7 linked regions of the Homo sapiens genome follow. The protein of the gene in region 3 interacts with the protein of the main gene of each other region in a biochemical or structural test. Each region holds a gene or a part of one and is shown on either strand. Other genes may lie near its edges. The genes, in order: GRID2IP, GIPC2, IGSF5, SHANK1, CARD11, PDZRN4 and TJP3.

Evidence for each region.
Region 1: the proteins of IGSF5 (region 3) and GRID2IP interact in a test that uses a peptide from one of them, tested with the Homo sapiens proteins (one large-scale study listed by IntAct).
Region 2: the proteins of IGSF5 (region 3) and GIPC2 interact in a test that uses a peptide from one of them, tested with the Homo sapiens proteins (one large-scale study listed by IntAct).
Region 4: the proteins of IGSF5 (region 3) and SHANK1 interact in a test that uses a peptide from one of them, tested with the Homo sapiens proteins (one large-scale study listed by IntAct).
Region 5: the proteins of IGSF5 (region 3) and CARD11 interact in a test that uses a peptide from one of them, tested with the Homo sapiens proteins (one large-scale study listed by IntAct).
Region 6: the proteins of IGSF5 (region 3) and PDZRN4 interact in a test that uses a peptide from one of them, tested with the Homo sapiens proteins (one large-scale study listed by IntAct).
Region 7: the proteins of IGSF5 (region 3) and TJP3 interact in a test that uses a peptide from one of them, tested with the Homo sapiens proteins (one large-scale study listed by IntAct).

What each region holds. Positions count from the first base shown.
Region 1 is NC_000007.14:6,541,462-6,544,961, reverse strand, and holds part of GRID2IP (delphilin), read left to right. Parts: intron 1-3,500.
Region 2 is NC_000001.11:78,132,966-78,135,954, forward strand, and holds part of GIPC2 (PDZ domain-containing protein GIPC2), read left to right. Parts: intron 1-2,083; exon of another isoform or gene 2,084-2,216; intron 2,217-2,626; coding exon 2,627-2,778; 3' UTR 2,779-2,989.
Region 3 is NC_000021.9:39,751,683-39,755,182, reverse strand, and holds part of IGSF5 (immunoglobulin superfamily member 5), read right to left. Parts: intron 1-3,500. UniProt on the Homo sapiens protein: Provides, together with MAGI1, an adhesion machinery at tight junctions, which may regulate the permeability of kidney glomerulus and small intestinal epithelial cells. Mediates calcium-independent homophilic cell adhesion.
Region 4 is NC_000019.10:50,664,303-50,667,802, reverse strand, and holds part of SHANK1 (SH3 and multiple ankyrin repeat domains protein 1), read left to right. Parts: coding exon 1-1,611; intron 1,612-3,500. UniProt on the Homo sapiens protein: Seems to be an adapter protein in the postsynaptic density (PSD) of excitatory synapses that interconnects receptors of the postsynaptic membrane including NMDA-type and metabotropic glutamate receptors via complexes with GKAP/PSD-95 and Homer, respectively, and the actin-based cytoskeleton.
Region 5 is NC_000007.14:2,907,868-2,911,367, forward strand, and holds part of CARD11 (caspase recruitment domain-containing protein 11), read right to left. Parts: intron 2,299-3,500; coding exon 2,183-2,298; intron 1-2,182. UniProt on the Homo sapiens protein: Adapter protein that plays a key role in adaptive immune response by transducing the activation of NF-kappa-B downstream of T-cell receptor (TCR) and B-cell receptor (BCR) engagement.
Region 6 is NC_000012.12:41,187,181-41,191,119, forward strand, and holds the start of PDZRN4 (PDZ domain-containing RING finger protein 4), read left to right. Parts: upstream 1-1,139; 5' UTR 1,140-1,275; coding exon 1,276-1,923; intron 1,924-3,939.
Region 7 is NC_000019.10:3,746,384-3,748,848, reverse strand, and holds part of TJP3 (tight junction protein ZO-3), read right to left. Parts: intron 2,365-2,465; coding exon 2,154-2,364; intron 2,074-2,153; coding exon 1,973-2,073; intron 1,056-1,972; coding exon 768-1,055; intron 1-767. UniProt on the Homo sapiens protein: TJP1, TJP2, and TJP3 are closely related scaffolding proteins that link tight junction (TJ) transmembrane proteins such as claudins, junctional adhesion molecules, and occludin to the actin cytoskeleton.

The sequences.
Region 1 (3,500 bases), on a different chromosome or scaffold from region 3:
GCGCCCGCCATCACGCCCACCTGGCTAATTTTTTTTCTATTTTTAGTAGAGACGGGGTTTCACCGTGTCAGTTGGGATGGTCTCGATCTCCTGACCTTGTGATCCGCCTGCCTCGGCCTCCCAAAGTGCTGGGATTACAGGCATGAGCCACCGCGCCCGGCTGTCTTTCATTTTTTAGAGACAGGGTCTGGTTATGTTGCCCAGGCTGGTCTCCAACTCCTGGCCTCAAGTGATCCTCCCGCCTTGTCCTCCCAAAGCTCTGGGATTATAGGCATGAGCTGCTGTGCCCAGCTTGTTATTTATTTATTTATAGCCTGAGAGAGACTTGAACATTTATATAAGCTGCAGGGAATGGAGAAGTAGATATACTGAAAACCATGCAGGCCGGGCACAGTGGCTCACACCTGTAAACCCAGCACATTGGGAGGCTGAGGCGGGTGGATCACCTGAGGTCAGGAGCTCGAGACTGCCTGGCCAACATGGAGAAACCCTGTCTCTACTAAAAACACAAAACATTAGCTGGTTGTGGTGGCGGGTGCCTGTAATCCCAGCTACTCAGGAGGGTGAGGCAGGAGCGTCGCTTGAACCCGGGAGGCAGAGGTTGCAATGAGCCGAGATCATGCCATTGCACTCCAGCCTGGGCAATAAGAGTGACACTCCATCTCAAAAAAAACAGAAAGAAAAAAGAAAAAGAAAACCATGCATTTACCAGTCATTGATCATGGGCCTATGATGTGCAGGACAGGGGAAACAGCCATGAACAACACAGGCAAGGAGCCTGACTTCACACACCTAACATTACTGCAGGGAAAGAGACAGTAAGCAAGTGGATTAATCAATACACAAGCTATTAAAGATCATGACAGGCCAGGCACGATGGCTCAGACGTGTAATTCCAACACTTTGGGAGGCCGAGGTGGGAGGATCACCTGAGGTCAGGAGTTTGAGACCAGCCTGGCCAACATGGTGAAACCCCATCTCTACAAAAATTACCAAAATGAGCCGGGCGTGGTGGCATTTGCCTATAATCCCAGCTACTTGGGAGGCTGAGTCAGGAGAACTGCTTGAACTCAGGAGGTGGAGGTTGCAGTGAGCCAAGATCCCACCACTGCACAGAGCGACAGAGTGAGCGACAGAGTGAGACTTTCTCTCAAATAATAATAATAATAATAAAATTAAATTAAATTAGCCAAGCACAGTGGCGTGCACCTGTGATCCTGGCTACTCGGAAGGCAGAGGTGGGAGGATCGCTTGAACACAGGAGTTCAAGGCCACAGGGAGCTATGATTGCACCACTGCACTCCAGCCTGGGCAACAGAGCAAGACCCTGACTCCAGAAAAAAAAAGATGATGATGAATAAAGTGGAGGCATAAATAGGGTGAGGTGAGAGTGACGCAACCCACTTTGACAGGGTGGCCAGGAAAGGCTGCCTGATGAGATGATCTTTGAGCTGAAAGCTGAATGACAAGTAGGTGGCAGGAAGAAAGGGGTGGAGACTGGGAATGGTGAGGTGTCTGTGGCCTGGTGATTTGGCCTTGACTACAAAGGGGGCTTTTTTTTTTTTTGAGACAGAGCCTCGCTCTGTCACCAGGCTGGAGTGCAGTGGCACGATCTTGGCTCACTGCAACCTCCGCCTCCCAGGCTCAAGCAATTCTCCTGCCTCAGCCTCCCGAGTAACTGGGATTACAGGCGTTTGCCATCAGATGCTCAGCTAATTTTTGTATTTGTAGTAGAGATGGGGTTTCACCATGTTGGCCAGGCTGGTCTCGAACTCCTAACTTCAGATGATCCACCCACCTTCGCCTCCCAAAGTGCTGGGATGACAGCCGTGAGCCACCGCACCCGGCCGGAAGTGGGCCTCTTCAACCTCTGAGAGCAGAGGATGGAAGGGAAGGATGCGGAGTCTGTTGAGAAGTTTGGAGGTGGATGAGGGTGAGAGAGGCGGGGCCTGACAGCCCCAGTTCAGGCTGAAGTTGCACCCACAAGTCCTCGAGAGAGGGAGACGTGAACGACTCATGGACTCACTCAGCCGCCCAGCCTTGCTTCAGGGTCAGCTCCAGCTGTCAGTGCCCAGAGACAACCAGACCCTCAGCCAACAAGGGAAGGGTCTCATGGAGTATGTGCTTTCAGTGGCTAAACTGTATGACATGTGGGCAATTCGATGGTTTTTAATATATTCACAGGATTGTAACACCCATCACTACCATCCATTTTCAAACAATTTCATCACTCTAACAAGAAATTCTGCACTCCTTAGCCATCACTCCCTATTTCATGGTTTTATTTTCTTATTTATTTATTGAAATGGGGTCTTGATCTGTTGCCCAGACTGTATAGTGCAGTGGCACAATCTTGGCTCACTGCAGCCTCAACTTCCTGAGCTCAAGTGATCCTCTCACTTCAGCCTCACAAGTAGCTGAGACTACAGGCATGCACCACCACATCTGGCTAATTTAAAAAAAATTTGTTTGTAGAAATGGGGTCATGCTATGTTGCCCAGGATGGTCTTGAATTCCTGGTCTCAAACAATCCTCCTGCCTCGATCTCCCTAAGCACTGGGATTACAGGTGTGAACCATTGCCCCCAGCCCTGCCAGGATCTTGCCTCCCACCTACTTTGGGATTTTCTTTTTTCTTTTTTTTTTTTTTTTTTTTGAGATGGAGTTTTTGCTCTTGTTGCCTAGGCTGGAGTACAATGGCAAGATCTCGACTCACTGCAACCTCCGACTCCTGGGTTCAAGCGATTCTCCTGCCTCAGCCTCCCGAGTAGCTGGGATGAATAAAGGCACCCACCACCACGTCTGGCTAATTTTTGTATTTTTAGTAGAGACGGGGTTTCACCATGTTGGCCAGGCTGGTCTCAAACACCTGACCTCAGATGATCCGCCCCCCTTGGCCTCCCAAAGTGCTGGGATTACAGGTGTGAGCCACCGCGCCTGGCTGAGATTTTCCTCTTTGTTTTTGGCCTAGATAGCCAAGAAACTACAAATATCTCCCACATGGATGTACTGCAATTATTTAGCCCCCACTGTCAGATATTTATATTGCTGCCAACGTCTTAGTGTTAGAAATAATACACAGGTGAACCACCTCACTCATACATCATCGTGCATGTGTCTTGTCAGGATGTGTGTAAGATAAATTCCTACATGTGAGATCATTGGGTAGAAGGATGGGCTTTGGACACACTTAACAACCTGCCTTCCAGAAACGTGACCATTTGCATGCTCATTTCCAACATGACCATTTGCATGCTCATTTCCAATGTGCCCATTTGCACACTCGTTTCCAACGTGTGCATTTGCACGCTCGTTTCCACCATGTCTATTTGCATGCTCCTTTCCAACGTGATCATTTGCACACGTTTCCAACGTGTCCATTTGCACGCTCATTTCCAATGGCCACACACTCCTGTGTGCAGATGTGCCTTGATTAGTATCAGCTGGTTTGTGGACAAAGACAAAAGTTTGGAGAGAGAACTGAGGGAGTCAAAATTCAGG
Region 2 (2,989 bases), on a different chromosome or scaffold from region 3:
AAGCAAAATTCTGAACTGGAGTTCTACTTCAGCAGTACTTCACCTTAACATTCTGGCTACTCTTCTTTTACATCCTGGCTATGAGACCAGAGTTCTGGACTTCACTTTCCCCAGTGCATGCTAACTGTGCCTGTGCAAAAAGTATGTAAGTGTAATTACACACCCTCCTCTTGCACCACCCATTCACTAGCATTTATTATGCATGAGACACTGAATTAGTTACTACGGGCATAAAAGACTGAGTAAGCTACTCAAGATCTGTTGGGAGTTTATTCTTTTAGTAGGAGAGAAAAAAATACACAGAAAAATAAATGTCAGTGCAGAGCAATGTTGAATTTGCAGTCTAAGACCTTTTTATTGAAAGTGTTTCCTGAGGACCAGCATCACCTGGGAGTTGAAAATGCAGAATCTCAGGGCTGCAGAACTACTGAACCAAAATCTCCATTTTGCCAAGATCCTAGGTGATTTGTTTGTGCATTTAAGCATGAAAAACACTGGCAGAAGGGTTTAGAGAATGGGGATATCTCTTCCAGCTGTGGACAAAGGATTTCATGGAGGAGAGAGCCTTGAAGGAGAGAAGGATTTTGATGGTGGTGCTGGTGGCTAGGAGGAGGTTATCCTGGGCAAAGGCAGAAAGCAGCGAAGATAGCATTTTGAGTGGTCAGATTTATGAGGGTACAGCATTAATGTAGTGTAGTGTAGTGAGAACCAAGGGTTCTGTAGATTAGACTGCCACTAGGGTTTAGTTTTAAAGATAAACATTGGTTACACAAGGAAAAAAAAATTGTGTGTGTGTGTGTGTGTGTGTGTGTGTGTGTGTGTGTATGTATGTATTATGGATTCATGGCTTCCTGTTCTATTCACTGGAGTTATAATATATTACCATCATTACTTATTTGGATATTTAAATTATCCCTGATTTGGTCAGTGTGAACTCTTGCACTCTGACATCTATATCCTTTTCACATGTTCCCATCATTTTGTGACACTTTCTTACTTTCTGGTACAAGATAGTCTTGGTTCATATTGCACTTTGCCTGCTCTAGCCCTGGAATCTGCCATTTTTCTGAGGAAGTCTTAGTCTTTCTAATGGAGAATGGTATTTAAGAACCAAGATTTCGGTGCTTTGTGTACTCATTGTAGTTGGGATGTCATGCTTCCAGGACTGAGGAATGTGTATACACATGCATGTATGCATTTATGTCTGTATTTTTATAACACCTCAATTGGAGATATATATATATTTCCAGTGATATCTACAATTCTAATTCCATAGGGTTCATTCTTATTTTCTCCCTTTCCCTATTTATCCTTTTCTGGCAGTGACAAACTTGATTCCTGTTGTTCTGTATGTATGTGTCTGTGTATGTGTGTATGTATGTGTGTGTGTGTGTGTGTATGTATGTGTGTGTGTATGTATGTGATCCATCTCCATATGTGTAACTAATCTCTTATCACCGTGGCTGCTGCCCTCCCTCCCCATTCCCATGCCATCCTCACCACATCTGTACTCTCCCACCCCATGCCAGGCTGCCTGGCCATATAGAAGCCCTCCTTACCTTACTAGAGGTTTGATCCCTCTACTAGTTCACTGCACCCCCACCCTACTTCTGCTCTGATCCTGGTGCTCTTCTGTAGGCCACATCTCTCCCTTTTCTTCCTAGCCTGCCTTGTGTTAGGACTGAACTGATGGGAAGAGGCATAGCTTTTATCTCTCTAGACCTTGTGGCTCGTTCAGAGAAGTCATACAAACTTGGATTAGTTCATCCTTAACCTGGAAGGAAAGGAGATGCTGGAGCTTTTCCCTGGGGCTTTGGCGTTTCCCTTTCACATGGAGGTTTTTCACCCAAGTCCCACATCACATATACACCATCTCTTTCTGGTTGCTGGTGCTTCTAGGGTGCTGAGTGGAAATCCACTGAGCCTCTTGGGCTCCCAGACAGCTGGGGCAAGTCCTAAGTACTCCTGAAGATGCTGGTTCCAAGACATAGAATATGGAACCCAGGCAACTTAGTAGAAAAACTGAACAAGGCCGCCACTTTCATGTTCTATCCCAAACTGGAGAGGGGCTCAGAAAAGGTACCTTGATTCCACAGGTAGACAGATGTCTTCCTCTGCTTCTCCCCAGCTTGACTGCTCCAGTGCAAGCTGTCATCCTTTGTCTTTTTGTCTTTGGGCAGGGAGGACTGGACTCCATCTCAGTTGGCAGTGGGGGACTGGTGGAGGAGGGAGGGAGAGTAGTGACTATTAGGAGGTTGGGGAAGGGGTGTTCTTTAAGTTTCCTGCTAGGGTTAGTCACAGCCACAGGGTTTCTTTCAGGGGATCTTGTTCTACCCATGGGAATGCCAGAGGTTCCCAACTGATGGGCTCCAAGGTTGGGTAGGGGGCAAGGGTGGCAGCTGCAAACCTGGGTTCAGTGGACACATTGTTGAAAAGTATCTTTGCCACCTTGATGTGTGTGTGTGAGAGAGGGTATCTTACTGTTTTAATTTGCATTTAATTTTGCATTTAATTTGAAATATATTTATGCATGTTACTTTTAGCAAGTAATTTTCCTGTTGCCATTTTTCTCAGTCCTTTGATGCTATTTCATTTATTGTTAATTTTTTAATATTATTTTTGATAGCCACCACAATGTTTGAAGCTGGAAAGGACAAAGTAAATCCAGATGAATTTGCTGTGGCACTTGACGAAACTCTTGGAGACTTTGCGTTCCCAGACGAATTTGTCTTTGATGTTTGGGGAGTCATTGGTGATGCCAAACGAAGAGGATTATGATGTGTACACTCCATCTCTGAAGAAACAACCCATCGTTCTTTTTTTTCTCTTTTTTAAAAAGTCCTATAAGATCTGTTTTTGGACACCTTTACTAACTCTGGTTTAATTTCATGTGTATGGAATATATTCTTTGAAATATAATTTTGGTAATTTTGATTTCTGGGCACTTTTTAACATTGCTGATGTAGTATGCTTAAGAGAAATGACCTAA
Region 3 (3,500 bases):
ACCAAAAGCAGTCACTGCCAAGTGTGAACCCAGTGTTACAGAAAACGACACAGCAATAGATTAAGGTCTGTTAGGAAAGACTTCTAGTCCCCGACAAGCAGGTAGAGTCAGGCAACAGACTAAGAATAGATTGCTTAACTTACTCAACACTCCATTCTGCCAACACCCTCACATGTCATCCACATTTCATCTCTGTATGAAAGAGGAGTCTAGCAGAATCACAGGGCAGGCAGTGCAAAAACACCCTCAGAGCTCCAGGAACCAAGCAGTGAGGCTGCTACAGATATGGATTTGAGAGGGGATAGCATTTGAAGGGTGTATGCAGTTGGAACACTGTCATAAAGCTGATTTCAAGTTTAACTGAAATCAGACAAGCTGCTTTAATTAAAGACATATGCCGGGTATTGTTCATGAATATCCCTATGGGGTAGTCTGAACAGGACTTGAGATTTAACTTGTCTTTCATTTCATTATAGCAGACTTGAATTACCTACACTTAGTTGAAAAATCTTTTATTCTTAAAGTCTTTAGTCTTATTAAACTGTATTAAATAGACAGGATTTAGCCACCCACCAATTCCTCCCTGTCCTGACGAGAGGCAAACACACTCAGAAGATCAGCCAGGACTCACCAAGCTAGTCCTCTCAGAAAGAAAATTGGTGCTTTTGAGATCGCACTCAGCCCCTTATTTTTGGATTATTGGAAATGGCTTGATAATGGAATCTTCAAAAGTGGCAGAAAATGTCATGTTTGGGGCAACGGCAAGAAGCTCAAAAACAAACAACAGGGGGCAAGTGCCTGCTCAAGGTTGGTGGGAAATAGCCATACAGATTCCTCAGCAGAAGCCTTATAAGCCAGAAGGGATTGAAGTCCTATCTTTAGCCTCTTTAAACAAAATGATTGTCAGTCAAGAATCTTATACCCAGCAAAACTAAGCTTCATAAATGAGAGATAAAGTCTTTTTCAGACAAAAAATGCTAAAGGCATTTGCCACTACCAAACCAGCACTACAAGAAATGCTAAAAGGAGTTCTAAATCTTGAAACAGAAGTTTGATATGCACCCAAATAGAACCTGCTTAAAGCATAAATCTCACAGGGTCTATAAAACAATAACACAATTAAAAATAGAAGTATCTAGGTAACAACTAACATGATGAATACAACAGTACCTCACATCTTAATATTGACCTAATGTAAATGGCCTAAATGTTCCACTTAAAAGATTAAAAATGGCAGAATGGACTAAAAAAAAACAAAAAAACACCAACCAAATATCTACTGTCTTCAAGAGATTCAGCTAACACCTAAGCACTCACATAAACTCAAGGTGAAAGGTTGGAGAAAGATATTTCACACAAATGGAAACCAAAAGCAAGCAAAAGTAGCTATTCTTATTTCAGACAAAACAGACTTTAAAGCAACAACAGTTAAAAAAAAAAAGACAAAGAAGGGCATTATATAGTGATAAAAGAATTAATCCAACAAGAAGATATTACAATCCTAAATTTATATGCACCTAACAATGGAGCACCCAGATTTTAAAAACAATTACTACTAGACCTACAATATTAGACAGACAGCAACACAATAATAGTGGGGGACTTCAATACCCCAGTGATAACACTAGACAGATCATCAAGGCAGAAAGTCAACAAAGAAACAATGGACATAAACTATACCCTAGAACAAATGGAACTTACAGATATTTACAGAACATTCTTCCCAACAACTGTAGAGTATAAATCTGGAGGCTTCACATTACCTGACTTCAAATTATACTACAAGGCTATACTTACCAAAACAGCTTGGTACTGGTATAAAAATAGGCACATAGACTAATGGAACAAAATAGAGAACTCAGAAATAAAGCCAAATACTTACAGCCAACTGATCTTCAACCGAGCATACAAAAAAAATAAATTGAGGAGAGGACACCCTATTAAATAAATGATCCTGGGGTAATTGGCAAGCCACACATAGAAGAATGAAACTGGATCCCCATCTCTCACCTTATACAAAAACTAACTCAAGATAGATGAAAGACTTAAATCTATGATCCAAAACTCTAAGAATTCTAGAAAATGGCATCAGAAAAAATGCCTGGACATTAGCTTAGGCAAAGAATTAATGACTAAGACCTCAAAAGCAAATGCAAAAACTAAATAAATAGGACCTAGTTAAACTAAAAAGCTTCTGCACAGCAAAAGAAGTAATCAGCAGAGTAAACACACAACCCACAGAGTGGGGGGAAATATTTGCAAACTATGCCTCCAACAAAGGACTAGTATCCAGAATCTACAAGGAACTAAAACAAATCAGCAAGAAAAAAAAAAGAATAAGTCTATCAAAAAGTGGGCAAAGAACATGAATAGACAATTCTCAAAAGAAGATATACAAACAGCCAACAAACATATGAAAAATACTCAACATCACTAATCAGGGAAGTGCAAGTTAAAACCACAATGAGATGCTGCCTTACTCCTGCAAGAATTATCATAAAAGACAAAGCCATAAATGTTGGTGTGGATGTGGTGAAAGGGAATACTTTTACACTGCTGGGAATGTAAATTATACAACCACTATGAAAAACAGTAGGAGGTTCCTTAAAGAACTAAAAGTAAAACTACCATCTGATCCAGCAATCCCATTACTGGGTATCTACCCAAAGGAAAAGAAGTCGTTACATGAAAAAGACGCTTGCACATGCATGTTTATAGCAGCACAATTGCAATTGCAACAATATGAAACCAACCTAAATGCCCAGCAGCCAATGAGTAGATAAAGAAAATGCGGTATATATACACCATGGACTACTACTTAGTCATAAAAAAAAAGGAATAAAATAACATATTTTGCAGCACCTTGGATGGAGCTGGAGGCCATTATTCTAAGTGAAGTAACTCAGGAATGGAAAACCAAACATCATATGTTCTCACTTATAAGTGGGAGCTAAGCTATGAGGATGCAAAGGCACAAGAATGACACAATGGACTTTGGGGACTCAGGGAGGAACGGGGTGAGGGATAAAAGACTACATATTAGGCACAGTGTACACTGCTCGGGTGACAGGTGCACTAACGTCTCAGAAATCACCATTTAAGAACTTATTCATGTAACCAAAAACCACCAGTACCCCAAAAACTATTGAAATTTTTTAAAAGTAAAGAAAAAAAGAAGAAAGAAATAGCTGTAACAAAAACCACGCAAGGGACTAAGGAGCAACCTGGACACCGCCACGGCTCAATAAAAAGGTGCTGGCATTTCTCCTGCACTCGGAAGACTCCAGCTCTGAGCATCTTGCATTCAGGGTCGGCCTTCTCAGAACCTCCAGAGACTTTGGGAGAATTCTACTTTCCCTAAGGCTTCTCATTAGAGGGTGGAAAAGGCATTTACAAGCTTGTCCAATGAATGGCAGACGTCATGAGTCAGTCCTTTCCAAAAGCCCAGACTTCCCCACTGCACAATATCTCCATGTAACAAAACTGCATTTGTACCCTCG
Region 4 (3,500 bases), on a different chromosome or scaffold from region 3:
GGCCCCGCCGCCCACCCCGCACCACCACTCGCCCCACGCCCACCACGAGCCAGTGCTGCGTCTCTGGGGGGCCTCCCCGCCGGACCCTGCGCGCCGGGAGCTGGGGTACAGGGCCGGGCTGGGCAGCCAGGAGAAGTCCCTTCCCGCCAGCCCGCCCGCCGCCCGGCGTTCCCTGCTACACCGCCTGCCGCCCACCGCTCCCGGGGTGGGGCCCCTCCTGCTGCAGCTGGGGACGGAGCCCCCGGCCCCGCACCCCGGAGTAAGCAAGCCCTGGAGGTCCGCAGCCCCCGAAGAACCCGAGCGGCTGCCGCTGCACGTGCGGTTCCTTGAAAACTGCCAGCCCCGGGCCCCTGTGACGAGCGGAAGGGGTCCCCCCTCGGAGGACGGGCCGGGGGTCCCGCCGCCCAGCCCACGCCGGTCCGTGCCCCCCTCCCCGACCTCCCCGAGGGCCAGCGAAGAGAACGGGCTGCCCCTGCTGGTCCTGCCGCCTCCCGCCCCCTCGGTGGATGTGGAAGATGGCGAATTCCTTTTCGTGGAACCGCTGCCTCCGCCTCTGGAATTCTCCAACAGCTTCGAAAAGCCAGAGTCGCCCCTCACGCCTGGGCCTCCCCACCCGCTGCCCGACACACCTGCCCCTGCCACCCCGTTACCCCCTGTGCCACCCCCGGCTGTGGCCGCAGCCCCTCCCACCCTGGACTCCACCGCATCCAGCCTGACATCCTATGACAGCGAGGTGGCCACCCTGACCCAGGGGGCCTCCGCCGCTCCTGGGGACCCCCATCCACCAGGCCCGCCTGCCCCAGCAGCACCGGCTCCCGCTGCCCCACAGCCTGGCCCGGACCCTCCGCCTGGCACGGATTCTGGCATCGAGGAGGTGGACAGTCGGAGCAGCAGTGACCACCCACTGGAGACCATCAGCAGCGCCTCCACGCTGAGCAGCCTATCTGCCGAAGGTGGTGGCAGCGCAGGGGGTGGGGGCGGGGCTGGGGCCGGTGTGGCCAGTGGGCCGGAGCTTCTGGACACCTATGTGGCCTACCTGGACGGCCAGGCCTTTGGGGGCAGCAGTACTCCCGGCCCGCCATACCCTCCTCAGCTCATGACTCCCTCTAAGCTCCGGGGCCGGGCGCTAGGAGCCAGCGGAGGCCTGCGGCCTGGCCCCAGCGGGGGACTCCGAGACCCTGTTACCCCCACCAGCCCCACCGTCTCGGTGACAGGGGCTGGAACCGATGGGCTGCTGGCCCTGCGTGCTTGTTCAGGACCCCCCACGGCAGGCGTGGCGGGGGGTCCGGTGGCTGTAGAGCCAGAAGTCCCACCGGTGCCCTTGCCGACGGCCTCCTCTCTGCCCCGGAAGCTGCTGCCCTGGGAGGAGGGCCCGGGCCCACCGCCACCACCTCTGCCCGGGCCCTTGGCCCAGCCTCAGGCCTCAGCCTTGGCCACAGTAAAAGCCAGCATCATCAGTGAACTCAGCTCCAAGCTTCAGCAGTTTGGGGGCTCCTCGGCAGCTGGCGGCGCTCTGCCCTGGGCCCGAGGAGGCAGTGGGGGAGGCGGAGACAGCCACCACGGGGGAGCCAGCTATGTCCCCGAGAGGACCTCCTCCCTGCAGCGGCAGAGGTAAGCGGGGGCTGGTGGCCAACAAGGGAGGCCAGAGGTGTTGATGGCATGGCTGTGTCCCTTTAGGGTCTCAGGGTGGCAGAAAGGAAACAGAAACCAGGTTGGCAGGAGTTTGCTGTCACAGAAGCATGCTTTCACAAATATTTTCTTTTTCTTTTTTTTTTTTTCTTTTCTTTTCTTGAGAGGGAGTTTCACTCTTGTTGCCCAGGCTGGAGTGCAATGGCGTGATCTCGGCTCACCACAACCTCTGCCTCCCGGGTTCAAGCGATTCTCCTGCCTCAGCCTCCCATGCCACCACACCCAGCTAATTTTGTATTTTTAGTAGAGATGGGGTTTCTCCATGTTGGTCAGGCTGGTCTCGAACTCCCAACCTCAGGTGATCCATCCGCCTTGGCCTCCCAAAGTGCTGGGATTACAGGCATGAGCCAACATGCCTGGCTTTTTTTTTTTTTTTAGAAACAGGGTCTCACTCTGTCACCCGGCTGGAGTGCAGTGGTGTAATCATAGCTCACTTGCAGCCTCAAACTCCTGGGCTCAAGCAATCCTCTGGGACTATAGGTGCACGCCACTATGCCTGGCCAATTTTTCTTTTCTTCTTCTTTTTTTTTTTTTTTTTTTTTTTTTTGAGACAGAGTCTCACTCTATTGCCCAGGCTGGAGTGCAGTGGTACAATCTCAGCTCACTGCAACTTCTGCCTCCCAGGTTCAAACGATTCTCCAGCCTCAGCCTCCTGAGTAGCTGCGATTACAGGTGCCCGCCACCATGCCCGGCAAATTTTTGTATTTTTAGTAGAGATGAGGGGTTTTGCCACGTGGGCCAGGCTGGTCTTGAACTCCTGACCTAAGGTGATTCATCCCACCTCGGTCTCCCAAAGTGCTGAGATTCCACACATGAGCCAGCATGCCTGGCCCTGGCCATTTTTTCTTTAACTTTTTGTAGAGACAAGCTACGTTGACCAGGCTAGTTTCAAACTCCTGGGCTTAAGTGATCCTCCTGCCTTGACCTCCCAAAGTGTGATTACAGGTGTAAGCCACTGGGTCCAGCCTTTAAATTTCCATTTATTTCAGTAGCTTCTGTTGTCTCTGCCCATCACCATCACAACCTACATCCCATGATGAACAAAAAGTTATTAACAGGCTGGGCGTGGTGGTTCACGCCTGTAATCCCAGCACTTTGGGAGGCTGAGGCGGGTGGATCATGAGGTCAGAAGATCGAGACCATCCTGGCTAACACGGTGAAACCCCATCTCTACTAAAAAAAATACAAAAAATTAGCCGGTCATGGTGGTGGGCACCTGTAGTCCTAGCTCCTCAGTAGGCTGAGGCAGGAGAATAACTTGAACCCGGGAGGCCGAGGTTGCAGTGAGCCAAGATTGCACCACTGTGCTCCAGCCTGGGTGACAGAGTGAGACTCCGTCTCAAAAAAAAAAAGTTATTAACAAAGGAGACTGGAGTGAGACCTGCTTATGTTTGTTTCCTTGGTGAGCTGCCACTTCTTTCTGACAGTCCCTGAAATCTGTGAGTCCCTTGAAGCCAGTGTGGTTCAAGACAGGATGCAGTTATAGGTGTGGTTCTAGAGCCCACCTTCTCAGCTTCCAGTCCCAACCCTGCACTTTCTACCTGGGTGATCTTAGGCAAATGAATCCACCTCTCTGTAGAAGTGGAATGGCCTAGTGCCAGCCCAAAGAGTTTTTGAGAGGATTTAGTGTGTGCCATTGTTGTAACATGGGATGGGGGAAGAGGGGGCCTCGAACAAGAGCCCAGCAACTTCTACGTGGGGAAATACGGGATGATGCAGATGCTTCCCAGAGCAGCCAGTCAGCTGCATCGTCGCAGAATTCGAGCCCATTCAAGACCTTCTAGTCCTAGAGAAAGTAGAGTTACATTTCT
Region 5 (3,500 bases), on a different chromosome or scaffold from region 3:
AGCCAGGCATGGTGGTGGGCACCTGTAATCCCAGCTACTCGGGAGGCTGAGGTAGGAGAATCTCTTGAACCTGGGAGGTGGAGGCTGCAGTGAGCCGAGATCGTGCCACTGCACTTCAGCCTGGGTGACAGAGTGAGACTCCGTCTCAAAAAAAAAAAAATACTCCATACAGTATTTTTGTTGTGATACACACTGCACCATAAACACATTCCCAGGCAGGACAGATCAGGGAAGGGGGTATGTACCATGCTAGTATTTCTCATGCATTAAATGTATTATTGTTTCTTTGTTTCAACTCTTTTTTTGTTAACAGTTTGCAAGGTTTTCAGCTCTTGCCACCTTCCTAGCCTGTATGGATGGGCCCTATTGTGTGTATTCACTCCCCACAGACCGACCCTTAGGTGACGTCTACGTTTTGGCTATTGGGAGTAACGCTGCTGTGAACACGGGCGTGTATATGTCTCTTACAGACCCTGCTCTCAATTCTCTTGGGGATATGCCCGCAGGTGGGGTTGCTGGATTATATAGTATTCTATTTTTAATTTTTGGGGGCATCGCCATGCTGTCCTCCACAGTGGCCGCTCTCTTTTGCATTTCCAGCAGCTGTGCACCGGGTTCCGACGTCTACCCTCCTCGTCAACACTTGTCAGTTTCTGTCCTTTTGGTCCTGGCCAGCCTAACGGGTGTGAGGTATCGAGGGGGATGCCCGTCTCTTTTGCTCACTGCTGCGTTCCCCAGAGCCTAACCCTTCACAATGGCTCAGTGAGTATCTGGTGAAAAGGAATGAATGGGCCTAAACTCTCAGTCTGTGATTCCCTCTGCAAAATGGTGGCAGGACATTTATTTTGCAGGTGCGTGCGAGGAGGGGCGGGGATCCGAGATGAAGCCACTTAAGGGCCAGTCTGTCCTCATCACCCAGGCCCCAAACCTCAGCGCCGTCCTTTCGTTTTTTTTTTTTTGTTTTTTTTTTTCTGAGATGGAGTCTCACTCTGTCGCCCAGGCTGGAGTGCAGTGGCTCGATCTCAGCTCACTGCAACCTGCCCCTCCCACGTTCAAGCGATTCTCCTGCTTCTGCCTCCTGAGTAGCTGGGACTACAGGTGCCCGCCACCACGCCCAGCTAATTTTTTTTGTATTTTTAGTAGAGATGGGGTTTCACCATGTTGGCCAAGCTGGTCTCAAACTACCAACTTCAGCTGATGTGCCCACCTTGGCCTCCCAAAGTGTGGGGATTATAGGCGTGAGCCACCGCGCCCAGCCTCTGGTTCTCTGGAACCCCAGAGTGAACCCTTTCCCGAATCCTGCAGGCTCGACCCTGAACACGGATTCGGAGTCAGACTGCCTCTCATCGCCTCTCAGACAGAAGCCCGGCCCACACCGCCACCCTGCCCGTGTCCAGAGGTGAGAGGTGCGTTTATACCCTAAAGTGGACCATGCCACCTTCAGTGGCCTCCAGATGCACCCAGAACAAGATGTCGCAGCCTCCCGTGGCCCTGCATGGCCTGGACCCGCTGCCCCTCACCCCTCAGCCTCTCACTCTCCGTCCCTCACCCTCCGCCCCTCACTCCTCAGCCTCTCACCCCTCTGTCCCTCACCCTCTGCCCCTCACTCCCCAGCCTCTCACCCCTCCGCCCCTCACCCCTGCGCCCCTCACCCCTCCACCCCTCACCCTCTGCCTCTCACCCCTGCGCCCCTCACCCCTCAGCCTCTCACTCTCCGTCCCTCACCCTCCGCCCCTCACTCCTCAGCCTCTCACCCCTCTGTCCCTCACCACTCCGCCCCTCACCCCTCCGTCCCTCACCATTCCGCCCAAACATCTGTCTCAGGGTCTGAGCACCAGCTGTTCCCCTGCTGCCCAGATTGCGTCTTCTTTCTCATCTCCTAGGCCCCCCTCACTGCCATGGGTCTCGCTGATGGATACCCCAGGCCTTCCCGGACCACCCTGGGTGATGGGCACTCCGCCCCGTCCCTCCCAGCTCTTGTCCCCTGGGATGCGCCCCATATGTGAGTCACCATCTCGGCCGCTGTCCTTGGCATCAGCTCTGCAAGGTCAGTCCCGTACTTGGTGAGGGTTTACAAAAGGGGTGCATGAGGTGGGGGCACACAGGCCTCCTGCGATCCATGGAGGCTTGGTGGGGTGCTAGGGACAGGAGGGGACAGCCCTTAGGGGTCTGGGAGCCCTACCTGAACCTCTTGATGTTCTTCTCACACACCCGGATGAAGAGCACGATGGGGTAGATGTTGGACTTGATCAAGTCTCTTGTGCAGCCGATCCCAGCCTCCAGCAGGCAGTGCTTGTTCTGCGGGCACAGCGGCTTTGGTCAGCAGCAGCCCACCCACCTCCCGCTCCTGTGAAGGTGCCTGCAGCGGGGCCTGGATGCAGGGTTGGGGTCTATAGCGGGGCGGGAGCCCTGAAAGCCACCTGCCGCTGATCCAGGAGATGAGACCCCCACATGAGTCTGGACACTCCAGGACTCTGCTGACCACAGTGATGTTCATGGGCAGAGATGAGGCCCCGGACGGGGTGAACCAGGTGGCGTGAATGAGTTTGAATGAAACACCTGCTACCAGCCGGGCGTGGTGGCTCACGCCTGTAATCCCAGCACTTTGGGAGGCCCAGGCGGGCCGATCACTTGGGGTCAGGAGTTCGAGACCAGCCTGGCCAACACGGCAAAACCCTGTCTCTACTAAAAGTATAAAAATTAGCTGGGTGCGGTGGCCCACGCCTGTAATCCCAGCTACTCGGGAGGCTGAGGCAGGAGAATCACTTGAACCCGGGAGGTGGAGGTTGCGGTGAGCCGAGATGGTGCCACTGCATTCCAGCCTGGGTGACAGAGTGAGACACTGTCTCAAACACACACACACACACATACACACACACGCACACACACACACACCCCAAAACACCTGCTACCCTAGCCAGCCTTCAAGTAAGAGGGTAGGGAACACATGAAGGGTGAGGCGGCGAGGCTGGCAGGTCCCAGGAGTATCTGCAAGGTTCTCAACCATGAGCTCATCATTTTGAGAAAGGGCAATTTCTGCTTTGCTGAAGGCATCACTTAAAAAAAAATTCCACCAAATGTTGGCATGGTGGCTCATGCCAGCAATCCCAGCACTTTGGGAGGTGGGAGGATTGCTTGACGCTAGGAGTTCGAGACCAGCCTGGGCAATATAACAAGACCCTATCTCTAAAAAAATTAGAAAATCATTAGCTGGGCATGGTGGTGAGTAACTGTAGTCCCAGCTACTCGGGAGGCAGAGGCGGGAGAGTTGCTTCAGCCTAGAAGTCGCGGCTGCAGTAAGCCGGGATCATGCCCTGCACTCCAGGCTGGGCAACAGAGCGAGCCCCAGTCTCTAAATAAATAAAACATCAAACTTTGCATTGGAATAGAACATAAACACAGCATTCTAAGCATGCAGCTCAGTGAATTTCACAAACTGAACGCAGTCTAGCACTCGTGTCTGGAGGTGGGAATGACCCCCCTCGCCCAGGGTCTCCTTG
Region 6 (3,939 bases), on a different chromosome or scaffold from region 3:
TAGAGAATTACAAGCTTTCCAGGAACAAGGCTCAACTGGCAGCAAGGAATCATCAATGATTAATTTATAAAACCCACCCAAGCATCTGGTGGCAGCTTCAGGATAATGGCAGTAAGTGATATGCAGCCAGGTGACAGGATCTCTGCATTCCTAAGGTTCAGAAGATGGTAAAGGAAGTGGAGTAAGAAGGGTTTGGAATGACGCCCTACTGCGTGTTTTCAGGACGGCTTGTCATGCTACACAATTTGAGGAGTCAAACTAGGAGGGGAGGCAATTTGGATCCAAAGGGTTCATTCAGGGTAAGTAGAAGGAAGCAGCCACTAAGATTTTATTTATATGTTATTTCACTGCTTTCTTTCATCATCCTTCCCTTTAATTTTCCCTTCCAGGTTCCCAAATGATCACATTCCCGTCCCCAGTAGTAAAACGCCCGTGGAAGTAGAAGATGGATGCTGTGGCAACTGAACCTGGAGTCAGACTCAGAATCCCAGCTTCCTCACTCGGGAGGAGGCCTTGCATGGCTGTTCATGGGCTCCCTAAGAAGGCAGTGTCCTGAGGCGGGCCCTTGACTTTTTCCCCATCTTTGCTGCTAGGTCAAGGATCGCGCCATTCTAACTCACCTGATTTCTGGATCACGGTTTGAGAAGCCTGGCCCTGTGGATTTCCTAGTGTTATTTTCCTTATAGTGATTTCCTAAGGTCACAGTTTCCTAACTTCTGATTTTGTAGTTTTGATGTGAAAGAACAAAAGTGCTTCGATTTCAAACATATTGGAGATAGACTCGACGCCGGGCGGGCCATGGGCATTCAGCGGAAAACCAGACAGACAAAAAGATTCTGCTCTCCCGAAGCTTACATTGTGGTGAATTTAAAAGTTGTTTCTCAACATTAGCGCTTTACCCATCAGCAGCCCTGCCCAGGGCGAGGCGCCTCGATGCTTGAAGTTCACTGTTCAGGCGAAGGAGAACACAGTGTTCCCAAGGACCATTGTAAGCTGGGCGGCCAAAATTTGAAAGAACATAAATCGCAGGGCAACGAAGGAGGCGGGGGTCTCTGGAGGTTACTTCTATTAGCGTCAATACGGGCGAAATCAGGGGACCTAGCAGGAGCCTGAAAACTTCAAGCCAAACAAACAGTGAGATCACACCTCCCACCCGCCACCTCCCTCCACTGCCGCCGCCGCGAGACGGCTGCCCCGGGGGTGGCCCGGGGAAGGCAGGGGGGCTCGGAGAAGACGGACTCTGCTTTCGCTCCCCCTTTCTTCCCCATCCCTAACATGGGCTTTGCCCTGGAGCGCTTCGCAGAAGCCGTGGACCCGGCTCTGGAGTGCAAACTGTGCGGCCAGGTGCTTGAAGAGCCCCTGTGCACGCCGTGCGGGCACGTCTTCTGCGCCAGCTGCCTGTTGCCCTGGGCGGTGCGGAGGCGCCGGTGCCCGCTGCAGTGCCAGCCCTTGGCGCCCGGCGAGCTGTACCGGGTGCTGCCGCTGCGCAGCCTCATCCAGAAGCTGCGAGTCCAGTGCGACTACCGCGCCCGCGGCTGCGGCCACTCGGTCAGGCTGCACGAGCTGGAGGCGCACGTCGAGCACTGCGACTTCGGCCCTGCCCGCCGGCTCCGCAGCCGCGGGGGCTGCGCTTCGGGGCTGGGCGGTGGTGAGGTGCCCGCGCGGGGGGGCTGCGGTCCGACACCCAGGGCTGGCCGGGGCGGGGGCGCGCGCGGGGGGCCGCCGGGCGGCCGCTGGGGCCGCGGGCGGGGACCCGGGCCTCGGGTCCTCGCCTGGAGGCGGCGCGAGAAGGCGCTGCTGGCGCAGCTCTGGGCGCTGCAGGGCGAGGTGCAGCTCACGGCGCGCAGGTACCAGGAGAAGTTCACCCAATACATGGCTCACGTCCGCAACTTCGTCGGCGACCTCGGTGGCGGCCACCGCAGGGTAAGCAAAGGGGGGTGGGCACCGCGGGCATGGTCGATTGGGGTGGGAAAAGGAGCGGTTCTTTCTGACGCTTCAGGATTCCTTTGGAATTGGGCATCCTTCCTCACTATGCAGCAGGAAACATCCACACCCTGATCATACTTTCCTGTCATTATCTTACGAATGGATTGGCGTCGAAGTTAAGGATTGTCCCTTTTCTGATTATATTACGATTGGAAAGAGTTAAACAGATTCGATTCTAACTTTCCCCCGGGAAAGTAGGAATTGTGAAAACTCATTTTCCATCCAGACTCTCGTTTTCCATCTTTCACCCTCCTGCCCACCGTCTCTGCCTATTTTTTGAGCACTTGTCCCGTGCCTGAAGCAAATCCGAGAAGGAAAGACAGAAAGCGAAGACTTTCCCGGCCCAGCCTTTCCTCTCCCGCGGCCACCAGCATCCCCGCGGCCCTGGCAGCCGCGCACGCACACCTGGGACTGGTGTCAGCGTTGATGACACTTGCGCTGCCACTGCCTGAATCAACTGCCTTCTATTAAGTTGGGGACTGTGAGGCACGTTGGGGCCAGGACAGCCTCAGGAGTTGAGAGATGGGGTTTCTTAGACTTGCAGAGTTCATTTCATCACTCTGACTTTCCCTAAATAAGCCTTCCTTGCCTCGGGATCTCATTATTGGTGGAGAGAGAGAGAGAGATTGAGATTGTGTGTGTGCGACCTGGGAAGTCCAGTCCGAGAACCTCCATCTGTGGTCAGACCGGCCCTGCGAGCCCCCAGGCAGCGGTTGTTTCCCTTCTTTGTCTAAGCTGCTGGCCCCGAACTGCGCTCCTGGTCCTCCCGCCGGCTTTCATACCGAATAAACAAGCCTCTTTGCAGCATCCCGTGTGAAGAGGCTTGTTTATAAAGCTGTTACTTCTCTCCTGGAGGACTTCTGCACAGTGTCTGACATTGTTGGTCGCTGCCATGGTGAGCAGGGATTTAGCAGAATTTGCGCACCATTCAAGGAGCTGTTTTCATTCTTCAGCACTCCCGGGGAGGAGCAACCCAGAAAGATTCCCATTTGGGACTGGCTGCTCCACACTGCCTCTAACTCAGGCACTGAGTTTAGAAGCGCCCGTCTTGAACGTAAAAGAGAAAATTGAAGTGAGAGGGACTAAAATGTTTCTACCTTGATGAATGGAAGCACGTTGTGTATTAAACGACCGGTTTCAAGGAGTATTTCTCTAGTTCATATATGCATATACATATACGCATATATACAGGTAAATTTACAAAACGGGAGGACCCGGGGAAAAGCACAGATAGAAGCTTTGTATTACCAGTCCAGGTTTCAAGGTCGTAGGAAACCAATGGTTGAAGGAAAGGAGGAACAGCTAGAATAATATTACAGAAAAGTCCATGCAACAAGTCAAGCTATGATTCTGAGAAGTGAGAAAAACTGCCCATGATTTGCAGACTAGCCAAAACCTTCTATGTGTTCCTCAGAAGTGTTTTTCTACTACCAGTAGGGGCTGCTCTGCGCATTGCCTGGGAAAAGCTCCTGGGAAAATATCTTGATGCTGATAGCAGTGATGATGATGCATATGTTCTGAATGTTATCATTCAGAAATAGTTTCCAAGTAAAGGTTAATAACATCTACAACCATGAATAAACCCACCTAGTCCAGCACTAATTCATCCTATGTGTAAGTTAGTCTTTACTAATAAACATTGTAGCTATAATTCATATTTGTTTTACTATTATTTGGCCAGCAGGAAAAAATACATACTACTTTACCTAGCACAAACCCTTATTTTTTTATTCTGCAGGAATTATGCAAAACCAAATAGGAATATTATTTAAAATTAGGACTACAGTAGCCTAACAGATCCTGCATTACAACAGCAACATGAATGTTATGACTATAATTTATAAATAGTTCCAGTGTTTCTTAAATTCCTTAAGACTTTACAAAATAAAAATTTTACACTATTGATAATTTATATTTTACTTTTCTGTAATGGAGGGAAAAATAAAGATACCT
Region 7 (2,465 bases), on a different chromosome or scaffold from region 3:
GGCCGGGTGCAGTGGCTCACACCTGTAATCCCAGCACTTTGGGAGGCCGAGGCTGGAGTTCCAGACCAGCCTGACCAACATGGAGAAACCCTGTCTGTACTAAAAATACAAAATCAGCCAGGCATGGTGGTGCACGCCTGTAATCCTAGCTACTCAGGAGGCTGAGACAGGAGAATCGTTTGAACCTGGGAGGCGGAGGTTGTGGTGAGCCGAGATCACGCCATCGCACTCCAGCCTGGGCAACAAAAGCGAAACTCCATCTCAAAAAAAAAAAAAAAAAAGCCTGGGTGCAGTGGCTCATGCCTGTAATCCCAGCACTTTGGGAGGCCAAGGCGGGTGGATTACAAGGTCAGGAGTTCAAGACCAGCCTGACCAATGGTGAAACCCCGTCTCTACTAAAAATACAAAAATTAGCCGGGCATGGTGGCAGGTGCCTGTAATCCCAACTACTCAGGAGGCTGAGGCAGGAGAATCGCTTGAACCTGGGAGGTGGAGGTTGCAGTGAGCCAAGATTGCGCCATTGCACTCCAGCCTAGGCGACAGAGCAAGACTGCGTCTCAAAAAAAAAAAAAAAAAAAAAATGCTGCAAGTTACTCAGTGCCACGTGGGTCTCAGCTACCCCAGGTCTGAGTCCCAGAAACCAGTCTGACCAGGGAAGCCGTGTTTGTTGACGTCCTGGTAGAAAACAGGCTCCCAGTGTGTGTCTGCTCTGTGCTGGCATCCCCTCCGGAGACCCTTCCCAGGCCTGCCCCCCATGTCCGACGCACCTGGGCCCCCTGATGAGCCGAGATTCTCCCACGATCCCTCGGGCTCTGGGACTCATCTGCCTGCACGGGCTCCGAGGACCGGGCCAGGGCTGGAGCCGGGGGCTCATCATCCACATCCGTGTAGGGCCCCCCCTCGCCGTCTGTGTAGCCCTCGCCATCCGTGTACGCGCCGCCCTCGCCGTCCGTCTCGTAGTCGCTGTTAACGCGGCTGTCGCAGCTGAGGTCAGCGGAGCTGTCGGCCAGGCCGTGGTGAGGGAGGTCTAGGTTGTCCTCCAAGGAGCCATCCAGCTGTGGGGTGGGTGTGGATGCTGCGGCTGGCCCTGGCCAGGACCCCAGCTGCCACCCACGACATCCCCCCACCTTCAAACTCTGGTCCCAAATCAAGGCGAGGAGCCTGGAGCCTGGAGCCTCAGTGGAGGCTTCTCTGTTGACTCCAGGATGGGTTGTATCCATTGACCCTTCACCTGAGAGGCTCAGCCCCCAAATCCAAGCTGAGCCCCAAACCTTGACTCCAGCCCCAAGAGAAGACTCCATTCTCTCTCTCTTTTTTATGAGAAGGAGTCTCTGTTGCCAGGCTGGAGTGCTGTGGCGCAATCTCTGCTCACTGCAACCTCTGCCTCCCGGGTTCAAGTGATTCTCCTGCCTCAGCCTCCTGAGTAGCTGGGACCATGGGCGTGAGCTCCCGTGCCCCACTGACTCCATTCTCAAAACAGCTCCTCCAGGCTGGGCGCGGTGGCTCAGGCCTGTAATCCCAGCACTTTGGGAAGCTGAGGCAGGTGGATCGCCTGAGGTCAGGAGTTTGAGCCCAGCCTGGCCAACATGGTGAAACCTCGTCTCTGCTAAAAATACAAAAATTAGCTGGGCCTGGTAGCGCTCGCCTGTAGTCCCAGCTACTCGGGAGGCTGAGGCAGGAGAATCACTTGAACCCGGGAGGCGGAGGTTGCAGCAAGCTGAGATCACACCACTGTACTCCAGCCTGGGTGACATGAGACTCCATCTCAAATCAAACAACAAAAAACAGCTCCTCCAATCTCATCTCACCCAAGTTCCAGTCCAACACCCTTGTCTCAGGTCCCATCTTGACTCTGGCCACAGTCCTGATCCCTGACCAAGCCCTAACTCCCGACAGAGGCCCCAAACCCCAGCTGGGCCTGCACAGCGTCTGTGGGGCCTCCCTGCCCGACCCACCCACACCGCGGCAGTACCTGATCTTCCGCCGTCCAGATGGGCCGCGTCTGCTGCTCTCGAATGATGGCCTTGAGCTCCTGGTACCAGGTGTCACTCGTGCCATTCAGAGGGATGGTGGCTGCAGGGAGGGGACGTCAGTGTGTGCAGGAGACTCAGGCTGGGGCCCACCCGCCTACCCTGGGACACCCACCCCCCAACCTGTGAAGAGGTGGCTGCTGTGTTTTCGCAGCTTCTGGGCTTGTGCGTAGAGGCGACGGGTGCTGCGGCGGGAGGCAGGCGCCAGCCACTGGCGCAGTGCCTTGAGGGCCGGCCGGCTCTCGGGGATGAAGAAGACCACAATGGGGTAGTACTGCACATAGTTGAGGCGCTCGATGGCGGAGGGGGTCACATCCAGGAGCGCATGCTTGTCCTGGGCCAGGCCGGCGGACGTTGGGGTGAGGGGGATTGCAGCAGGGTAAACAGAGAGAGAAAGATAGAAAGATGAAGAGTCTGAGGTCAGAGTGGACCCCA